2 linked regions of the Homo sapiens genome follow. The protein of the gene in region 1 interacts with the protein of each later gene in a pairwise test. Each region holds a gene or a part of one and is shown on either strand. Other genes may lie near its edges.

Evidence for each region.
Region 2: the proteins of CA8 (region 1) and HSD17B14 interact in binary tests that used the Homo sapiens proteins (3 or more experiments, as listed by UniProt).

The regions. Positions count from the first base shown.
Region 1 is NC_000008.11:60,210,806-60,216,528, reverse strand, and holds part of CA8 (carbonic anhydrase-related protein), read left to right. Parts: intron 1-5,723. UniProt on the Homo sapiens protein: Does not have a carbonic anhydrase catalytic activity.
Region 2 is NC_000019.10:48,812,124-48,816,089, reverse strand, and holds the end of HSD17B14 (L-fucose dehydrogenase), read left to right. Parts: intron 1-948; coding exon 949-1,053; intron 1,054-2,359; coding exon 2,360-2,427; intron 2,428-2,537; coding exon 2,538-2,634; intron 2,635-2,741; coding exon 2,742-2,915; 3' UTR 2,916-3,072; downstream 3,073-3,966. UniProt on the Homo sapiens protein: Catalyzes the NAD(+)-dependent oxidation of L-fucose, yielding L-fucono-1,5-lactone, which rapidly converts spontaneously to L-fucone-1,4-lactone. Can also act on D-arabinose and L-galactose, with lower catalytic efficiency. Does not use NADPH.

The sequences.
Region 1 (5,723 bases):
GGGAGCCGAAGCTGAATGAATGCATATTAGAAGGAATAATCTCAACTGCCCTTCAAAATAGATGACTTTTCAATTAGCTGTACTTCTCAAGGAAAAGATTTAGGTGCTATTAGCACAGAGCTCCATCATAGCATCTGTTCAGAGGGCAGCAGAGTTAAAATGTAGACACACACAGACACACATTTACGTATATTAAAATGCAATTTAGAGTGATTTAGAAAAAATTATAATCTTAGGGGAATATAAGTCAGTCTGTCCTTGAATGTTTTACTTGGTGCTGCTCATAGAATTTCACAGGAAGCAGAGTAAAAATGGAAAAGGTCCAAAGAAGGCAGCAAAAGTGAGAGGAATCAAAAGAAGAGAATGTGATTCTAGGAGTTAGACCAAGAAAAATTGAGAAGCCTCAAGAATTGAGAAGGGGAGGAGAGAGATGCTTGACATATAACATAGCAAAAGGAACAATGAATGGCAGGTAGTTTCCACATAGCTGATTATATTGAGAAATTAAAAATTTTGCATTAAATTAAAGAGCAGTGTTTTCTTCTATACCATAAGGTTTATGTATGTAATTAAGCTGCTGAATATTATTGTGGAAAGAATTGGTATCTTGACATGCATCACCTGCCATAGGATAATAGTATTGGCACTAGCAACATTGAAGTTCTAAATCATAATGGTTTCCTATTAAATGCATAGTAGCTGTGATTCAGGGAGGTGTAGACTTCAGCTGAAGTGTAGTGTGGACTGTTAAGCCCATCATACATTGTCCTGAGTACTATTAATAGGAATTCTAGAATAGGAATTCTAAAATTGGAAGCCCCTTCTTAGCTGAATTTTTCATATTATTCCTGGTTAGCATGCCTTATGTAGGGAGAAAAAACACAATTGAACGGATCTGAATGAGTATATATTTCTTTTTTAAAAATTACCTCTAACCATTACATAACTTTATTAAAATTTTTTTATTTCCATAGGTGTTTAGGGAACAGGTGGTATTTGGTTACACGAGTAAGTTCTTTAGTGGTGATTTGTGAGATTTTGGTGGACCCATCACCCAAGCAGTATACACTGAACCCAACTTGTAGTCTTTTATCCCTCACCCCCTTCCCACCCTTTCCCCCTGAGTCCCCAAAGTGGGGATCCGGTGTGTGTGTGTGTGTGTGTGTGTGTATACACACACACACACGACAGTGTTTTTATCCACTCATTGATTATGGACATTTTAACCATTAAATAACTGTAATATAAACAACCGTCTAAGCATTCGGAAGCCAATCAGCTGGATTGTCGTGTTTAGAAATGAGATTCCAAGAACAGAATACAAATACCAAAACATTACCAAATCTAACAACAGAAATTTTAAGACATATTCTGATTTCACAGAGTCATTAAAATGTGAATACATATTAATCTTAGAATTGATAGAACAGGGTATTATGGTATAGTGCCATCTGTGCAAATACGTATGTACACATACAGAAATGGGTTGATAATTAAGTTTTGCTGTCCTTTTCCTGCCCTTTTCTTCCTCCTTTTTCTGCATTCCCTCCCTACTTATCTATTTCTTAGCTTATCTACATTTTCATATTAAATGTCTGTTTTTTCCTGTCTCTTTCAACTTAAAATAACACCAGTGAAATGAAGGAATATGAATGTGTTTGTTGTTTTTTCACCCTGTGGATACATGATACGTCTTCTAGAATATTGAAAACTGCTTTAAATGTTCTTTTCTTCTGTCTTTCCTCCTCTTCATTCCCTCTGCATTCCATGTTTCCTGTGGGTTGGAAAGTAGGACTCTTTACATCCTGACAGCCCGAGTTAGTGCCTGGCATGTGCTCAGCCTGTGGGATCTGGAAGCACATCTGGCCCTGGACAATTGAGGAAGTCTGACCCCATTCATGAAGCAGCAAGTCTTTCTCAGGGGTCTTCATGCTCCATATGGAATCGAAGGGGCTGTTTCCCTAAAGTCCAGGTTGCCGTAGGGCCACAGCATGGTTATGTTTGACAATCACTTCAAATGATTGGGAACATTTGTTATAGATTTTCAATGACTGGGAACATTTGTTGGAGATTTTCTTCTCTGTCCTTTCTTCAGGACCCACCTGAATGGGTCCCCTCTGACATTCAGGTGTTGCCAATGTGATGTATTAAGACATGGGACCTTTAAGAGGTGTTTAGGCCATGAGGGTCCTTCCCTTGTTAATGGATTAAGGCCCTTAAGAAAGAGGCTTCACACAGCATTTTCTTGTTGGCTTGCTTGTCCTTCTGCCTTCTGCTACATGAGGACGAATGAATAATGCCCTCACCAAATGCCAAATGTCTTGATCTTGGACTTCCAGCCTCCAGAACTGTGAGAAAATACATTTCTGTTCTTTATATATCATCCAGTCTCAGGTATTCTGTTATAACAGCACAAAACAGACGAAGACAGCCATGGTTTTCAGACTTGAGCATGTGTCAGATCCCCTGGAAGGCTTGTTGAAGCACAGATTGCTGCGTTCCACCCCTGTGTTGCTGATTCAGTAGGTCTGGGGTAGTTGCTGACAACTTAAACTTTTATTCTGGGAGGATACTTTGAGAACCACTGTTTCATATGTACCTGCATTCGTCTTTACATGTAATTGAGATCAGCGCTATAACCCGAGAATGCCGAGGTCCTGAAGGTGCGTGTGAAGGGCAGCGCTAGGCCAGCCCTGTCCAGTGGGAACATGATGTGATCCACATATTAAACTTTCTAGTAGCCATGGTAAAAAAAAAAAAAAGTCAAAAGAAACAGGTGAAATTAAGAAATTAATTCAAATAGTGTATTTAACCCAATACGTGCAAAATACTATCATTTTAGCATGTAGTCAAGGTAAAAAGTTATTGATGAGATTTCTCTCCTTATTTTCATACTGAGTCTTTGCCTTGCAGTGTGTATTCTGCACTTCCAGCACATCTCAGATTGGACAAGCCAAATTTCGAGTGCTTGGTGGCCATGTGGGCCTGGTGGCTGCCATCCTGGACAGTGCAAATCAAGGATCTTCTCTCTGGGGAGACTCTTTCTTCCCTTTCTTAAAATGTGTTATTTTTAATTGCTTGTAGAGATTTTTATATGTATTTTCTCAGTGTCTTAAGTGATAGGCAGCACTTTCCCTGTGGTTGTGAGCTCTCTAATCTGTAATTCTTTAGTATGTTTAAATCTGTGTGGCTCAGAAACTCTCTTGAGGTGATGAGGGCCGACAACGGCCAAGGCTGAGGCTCCTTTAGGCTGGGGATGGCTTCAGGACCGTTGACGTCGGTGTTACCAGGGAGTGAATGTTCTTCCTACTCTCTTCCTCAAAAAAATTGAAAAGATCGATTAAAGAGTCATGACAGAGTGAGAGTTGGTTTATGAATGAGAGGTTGGTAAGGAAGAGGGAGCATTGGTTTTAGATAGAACATTATATAATGGGGTAGAAGAGAAATGAGGCAAAAACAAGGCTGCAGTACATGAAAGGTGGAGAGTCCTCTCTGTCTATATCTGTCTCTGTATACATATATGGACTGTTTAAGTACAATTTGCTTTTGACTTTTTAATTTGATTAGTACCATTTGGAATTGTGTTATTCTGACTCTTGTTATTGATAATAAAAGAAAGTGAGAGCACTAACTTTTATAAAGAACCATTTTATCAAGGTCATAAAATATCTGTCACCTCCCAAAGTTTCCTCCCATGTCCTTTGTTGTTAAAATATTTTACTGGGTCAGAACGCTTAACATAAGATCTACCATCTTAGCATTTTAAAGTGTACAATGCAGTATTGTTAACTATAGGTACTGTGCTGTATAGGAGACCTCGAGGACTTATTTATCTTGCATAACTGAAATTTTGTACCCTTTAACCATTACATCCCCATTTCTGCTTCCTGCCAGCTCTTGGCAGCTGCCATTCTTCTCTCTGCTTCTAAGAGTTTGATTGTTTTAGATTCCACATATAAGTGAGTTCATACAATACTTGTGTTTCCATGTCTTGTTGATTTCCACTTCTGGATATAGATTGAAAGAAATTGAAGTCAGTATCTTGAAGAGATACCTGCACTCCCATGTTCATTAAGCCAAGACAGGGAAACCACATAAATGTCCATAGATGGGTTAATGGATAGAGCATACTGACTTTTATGTGTTGTATTTCTCTTTTAACATGATGACACATGAAATGCAAGTGAAAATAAATCTATTAGAACTTGGGAACTCCTGAAAGTTAAGTAGCCCTAAACTGCAAACCCTGGAAATTAGCCCTTTGAATGCATTAATAAAGAAGCAGTTTTAAAGCTGAACTTTTAGTGGATAATTTGGTTTTTGAGGCAGTGAAGATTGGAATAAATGTCTTAGACCAATTGGAGTGCACCTGTCGTTCAAAGAACAGTGGCTGTTGAATCTAGTACCTTCAGAAGATGGCGACTTCTCCATGAAATGTTCAATGTTGGTGCCCCGCATTCAGTTTTCTCTTAAATTGGTTAAAAACAAATAACACATACTATGTTTAAGTGGAGTAGCATTAACAATAGATGCAGTCATACATTCAGATATATGTGATAATAATGGTCTCTGGAAGGCCTTGACATTTGAGTTTCATTAAAGATTTCTATCCTGAAATATTATTCTATTATTCTGTTCATTTATCACAATCTCTCATTTCAGTGTGGCTGATTCAGTATGCACTTGAAACCATTTGAAGTGACTAAAGGGTTTTGGGGGTGGTTGCTTTAGAAAAATTGGCATTTCAGAAAGACACATTTTCCCCTCCATCTCTGTTGATGTTGGAAGTCTTCAAAGTGTTGCTGTGATCAGAGAAAAACATTTCTTGTGAAATAGTTTTCTCTGAGAGTACAGTGATTTGAGACTGGCTGGCTGTTGATTCAGATCATCTCTTCTGGAAGAAGTTGTTTTCACAGAATGTGCTTCAGGGTGAGGCCTGGGGCTTGAAAGGTTTATCTCCAGTTCAGAATGCATAAATATAAAATTAACCCAGCTTTAAAATAATCTTCAAAGTCAATAAAAAATGGATTCTTTCATATGTTGAGGCAGTAAAGTTCCCAGCCCACATTGCTCCTCAGTGACCTGTGCATGCTTCATAGGTTCAGGTTGCAGGTATTAAGTATGATTACATGGAAAGCGAATGCTAGGAGAGATGACTTTAAATTTCCTCAGTGAAATTATTGGTTTATTATAAATACTTTCTGCATATACAACTGTAGCTAAATATTTATCTCAAAGTGCTGAAGGTTTCACTTCAAAAGAAGTTGTGCAATAGAAGTGCTAGTATTTGTCAGACACTTCCTATGTGCTTGGAACTATGCTGAGTGATTTTCATGAATGTTCTTTCTTATTTCCTAGGCTATCCTTGTGAATACTGTTATTATTATGTCTGTTATACACATGTGGAAACTGAGGTTTGAAGAGGTGAAGTCATTTGATCTTTTGGGTCTTAGGTGGCAGAGCACGACAAGAATTGGCCTTTGGGTGCAGAGTCCACTGCCCTCACTGTGATATTCTTCTTTTTGAAAAAGCATAAGATTCTCTCACTGACCAGGTTCCTTTTCACTCTGTACTTAGGGAAAACTTTAAGGTGAAAGCAAATAATAAGGGATTCTCATGCAGCTTCGTCTCTAGAAGTTTTTCAGATGCAACAAGCAATAGATGCTACTCGTATTTTCATTCTAATAGCTGAAGAAGATCTAGCGAAAAACCATCAAGTAGAT
Region 2 (3,966 bases), on another chromosome or scaffold:
GGGAGTTGAATTGCAGGAGAAACGGTGGCAGGAAACAGTGCATTTCTTTTTTTTTTTTTTTTTTTTTCTGAAACGGAGTCTTGCTCTGTTGCCCAGGCTCGAGTGCAGTAGCGCAATCTTGGCTCACTGCAACCTCCACCTCCCGGGTTCAAGTAGTTCTCCTGCCTCAGCCTCCCAAGTAGCTGAGATTACAGGAATGCACCACCATGCCTGGCTAATTTTGTATTTTTAGTAGAGATGGGGTTTCATCATGTTGGCCAGGCTGGTCTCAAAATTCTGACCTCAGATGATCCACCCACCTCAGCCTCCCAAAGTGCTGGGATTACAGGTGTGAGACACTGTGCCTGGTCTAGAGTGCCTTTCATGAAGGCCTCATAGAAACCATCTCCCCCTCCATGGATAAAAGAACTTCCTGGCTGGGTGTGATGCCTCGTGCCTGTAATCCCAACACTTTGGGAGGCCGAGCGGGGAGGATTGCTTGAGCCCAGGAGTTCGAGGCTGCAGTGAGCTATGATCGTGCCACTGCAGTCCAGCCTGGGCCACAGAGACTTCACCGGAAAATAACTTCATCCCATTTTTGAAAAATATGCAGCCTTCTGGATCTCTCATCCATTTTCCTGTCTTGATATGGACAGGAATTTGAGTAACATACAAAGACCAAGGGAGAAGGGACAGAGGTAGAGACAAAGACAGAGTCAGAGACCGAGGAGAAGAGAGAGAAATCCCTTCCCACCAAGGAGAGACTCCTTGAGTGCTGAGACCCAGCGACCCCAGGGCAAACCAGAGAGGGTGTTATGTTAGATGCCGTCTCTAGCAGTCACTGAGATCAACTAGAAACATGCCAGGGAGGTGGCCGTCATCCCAGACATCAGGATGGCTGTGGCTGTGTTTCAGTGGTCTGCGAAGATGCAGGGCTTGTGTAGCTTACTTGGCCTCTTGTCTCCCTAGCTCGCCCTCCCCTACCTGCGGAAGAGTCAAGGGAATGTCATCAACATCTCCAGCCTGGTGGGGGCAATCGGCCAGGCCCAGGCAGTTCCCTATGTGGCCACCAAGGTATGGCAGCCCCTACCCCTTCCTTCCCTCCCTACTCCTTCCCATGGGCCTTGGCTTTGAGTCCAGACAACTTAGGAGCCAGACCTAGCAAGATCTTGGCCCTAGAAAGTCTCACACCTAACTCCCAGATGCAGCACCCAGGCATAACTGCCTGTGACAGATTTCTGTTTTTTCTTTTCTTTTCTTTTTTTTTTTTTAAAGATGGAGTCTCGCTCTGTCACCAGGCTGGAGTTCAGTGGTGCAATCTCAGCTGCAACCTCTGCCTCCTGGGTTCAAGGGATTCTCCTGACTCAGCCTCCCGAGTAGCTGGGACTACAGGCGCATGCCACCGCACCCAGCTAATTTTTTTTGTATTTTTTAGTAGAGACGGGGTTTCACCATGTTAGCCAGGATGGTCTCGATCTTCTGACTTCATGATCTGCCTGCCTTGGCCTCCCAAAGTGCTGGGATTACAGGCATGAGCCACCGCACCCAGCAGATTTCTGTTTTTTCTTTTCTTTCTTTCTTTTTTTTTGAGATGGAGTTTCGCTCTTATTGCCCAGGTTGGAGTGCAATGGTGTGATCTTGGCTCACTGCAACCTCCGCCTCCCGGGTTCAAGTGATTCTCCTGCCTCAGCCTCCCAAGTAGCTGAGATTACAGGTGGCTGTCACCACGCCCAGCTAGATTTTTGTATTTTTTAGTAGAGACGAGATTTCACCATGTTGGTCAGGCTGGTCTCGAACTCCCGACCTCAGGTGATCCACCCACCTCGGCCTCCCAAAGTGCTGGGATTACAGGCATGAGCCACTGTGCCCGGCTAACTTTCTTTTTTTCTTTTCTTTTCTTTTCTTCTTTTTTTTTTTAGATAGGGTCTCACTCTGTCACCCAGGTTGCAGTGTGGTGGCATGATCTCAGCTCACTGCAACCCCTGCCTCATGGGTTCAAGCGATTCTCACGCCTCAGCCTCCCCAGTAGCTGGGATTACAGGCGTGCACCACCATGTCCGGTTAATTTTTGTATTTTTAGCAGAGATGGGGTTTTGCCATGTTGGCCAGGCTGGTCTCGAACTCCTGGCCCAAGTGATCCACCCATCCCGGCCTCCCAAAGTGCTGGGATTACAGGTGTGAGCCACTGCACCTGGCCTTCCTGTGACAGATTTCTATGCCAAGTTTCTCCCAAGAAACCAAGCCTGGTGCCTCTGAAGGCAGCCTTCAAGGAGGGCATGACTTCCCCATTCTGATGCCCCCCTGGCTGGCAGGAGACAATGGATGGCAGGGACCCCATGTCCCGGGGACTGAACTTTCTTCCCCGCTCCATTTCCTGCAGGGGGCAGTAACAGCCATGACCAAAGCTTTGGCCCTGGATGAAAGTCCATATGGTGTCCGAGTCAACTGGTGAGCTGCTCTGAGCAGGCGGAGAGCCTCCTGGGGGGACTGGGGTGACTGGGAGTGATCCCAAGTGGTTCGAGACAGATTGCTTTGATCCCCCCTCTCCCTTCCTCTAGTATCTCCCCAGGAAACATCTGGACCCCGCTGTGGGAGGAGCTGGCAGCCTTAATGCCAGACCCTAGGGCCACAATCCGAGAGGGCATGCTGGCCCAGGTAGAAGTGGGGTTCAGATCCAGGTGGTAGAAGGTGGCATGGGGGTGGGGGGCATGGCGATCAAGTGGGGCTCCTCTTGACCTCCTTCCCCCCTCTTTTCTCCCCAGCCACTGGGCCGCATGGGCCAGCCCGCTGAGGTCGGGGCTGCGGCAGTGTTCCTGGCCTCCGAAGCCAACTTCTGCACGGGCATTGAACTGCTCGTGACGGGGGGTGCAGAGCTGGGGTACGGGTGCAAGGCCAGTCGGAGCACCCCCGTGGACGCCCCCGATATCCCTTCCTGATTTCTCTCATTTCTACTTGGGGCCCCCTTCCTAGGACTCTCCCACCCCAAACTCCAACCTGTATCAGATGCAGCCCCCAAGCCCTTAGACTCTAAGCCCAGTTAGCAAGGTGCCGGGTCACCCTGCAGGTTCCCATAAAAACGATTTGCAGCCAGAAGGAGGAGGATATCGTTATATTTATTTCCCATCCTTTAGACGAGTCCTTCTGCCCCACTTAGCCCTTGCACCCCAGACCCACAAGTTGCCTCGACCCTGAAGGACTGCAGCTCCCCCCGCCCCCCAACCCCAGGCCTTGCAGCAAGCAGGTGCCTGATGTTGCTAGCCCTGTCGCTGTCGCCAGGGGCTCCTGGGAAGGGTAGAGCGGTTTGGCTTCACCAGCGCGCTAACTAAAGGCCCGCAGGGGAGAGTAAATTAAGCGCTAATTAGGAGGTAATGGAGGGGGAGACGCAGAAGGCCCTCTTACTCTTGGCCCTCAGGGAAAAGGAGTTTTCCTCTCACTGCCTGTAGAATAGGAAGGTGGCTGGCAAGAAAAGTCCAAAGGGAAGAGAAAGTAGGGGGTTGAGACATCTGGATCAGAGGGAGGAGGGGCTGAAACTCCTGGGTTTTGGTCCGCAGGGCACTGGGGGACGCAGACTCCCCAGCTGGACCCAGGGGGGGGGCAGGGCCCGGGTGCGCTGGCGTCCCCCAGGTGAGGGGTGGAGCTGCAGGGCTGCTGCGGATTGGCTGTGGCCGGGGGGGCGTGTGCACCAACCGCTGATTGGCCGCGGCGGGGGCGGGAGCTGTCAGTGGGCCCCGACCCTACAGCCCGGGGCTGGCGGGTGGGGCAGGAGGACTGGGGCGGAGCGCAGAAAAACAGGGCGACGCCCTGTGAGGGAAGGGTCCCGCGGTTTGGCTGTTTGGGCCTGTGGCTGTTAGGGGTGGCAGGATAGTGACCCGGGGACAGGACTTGGGGGCACTGTGGGGGTAGAATTTGGAGACAGAGTGTCCCAGGGTAGGATTGCCGAGACACGATGGCCGAGGGATACGATTTTTTTTTTTTTTTTTTAATTTG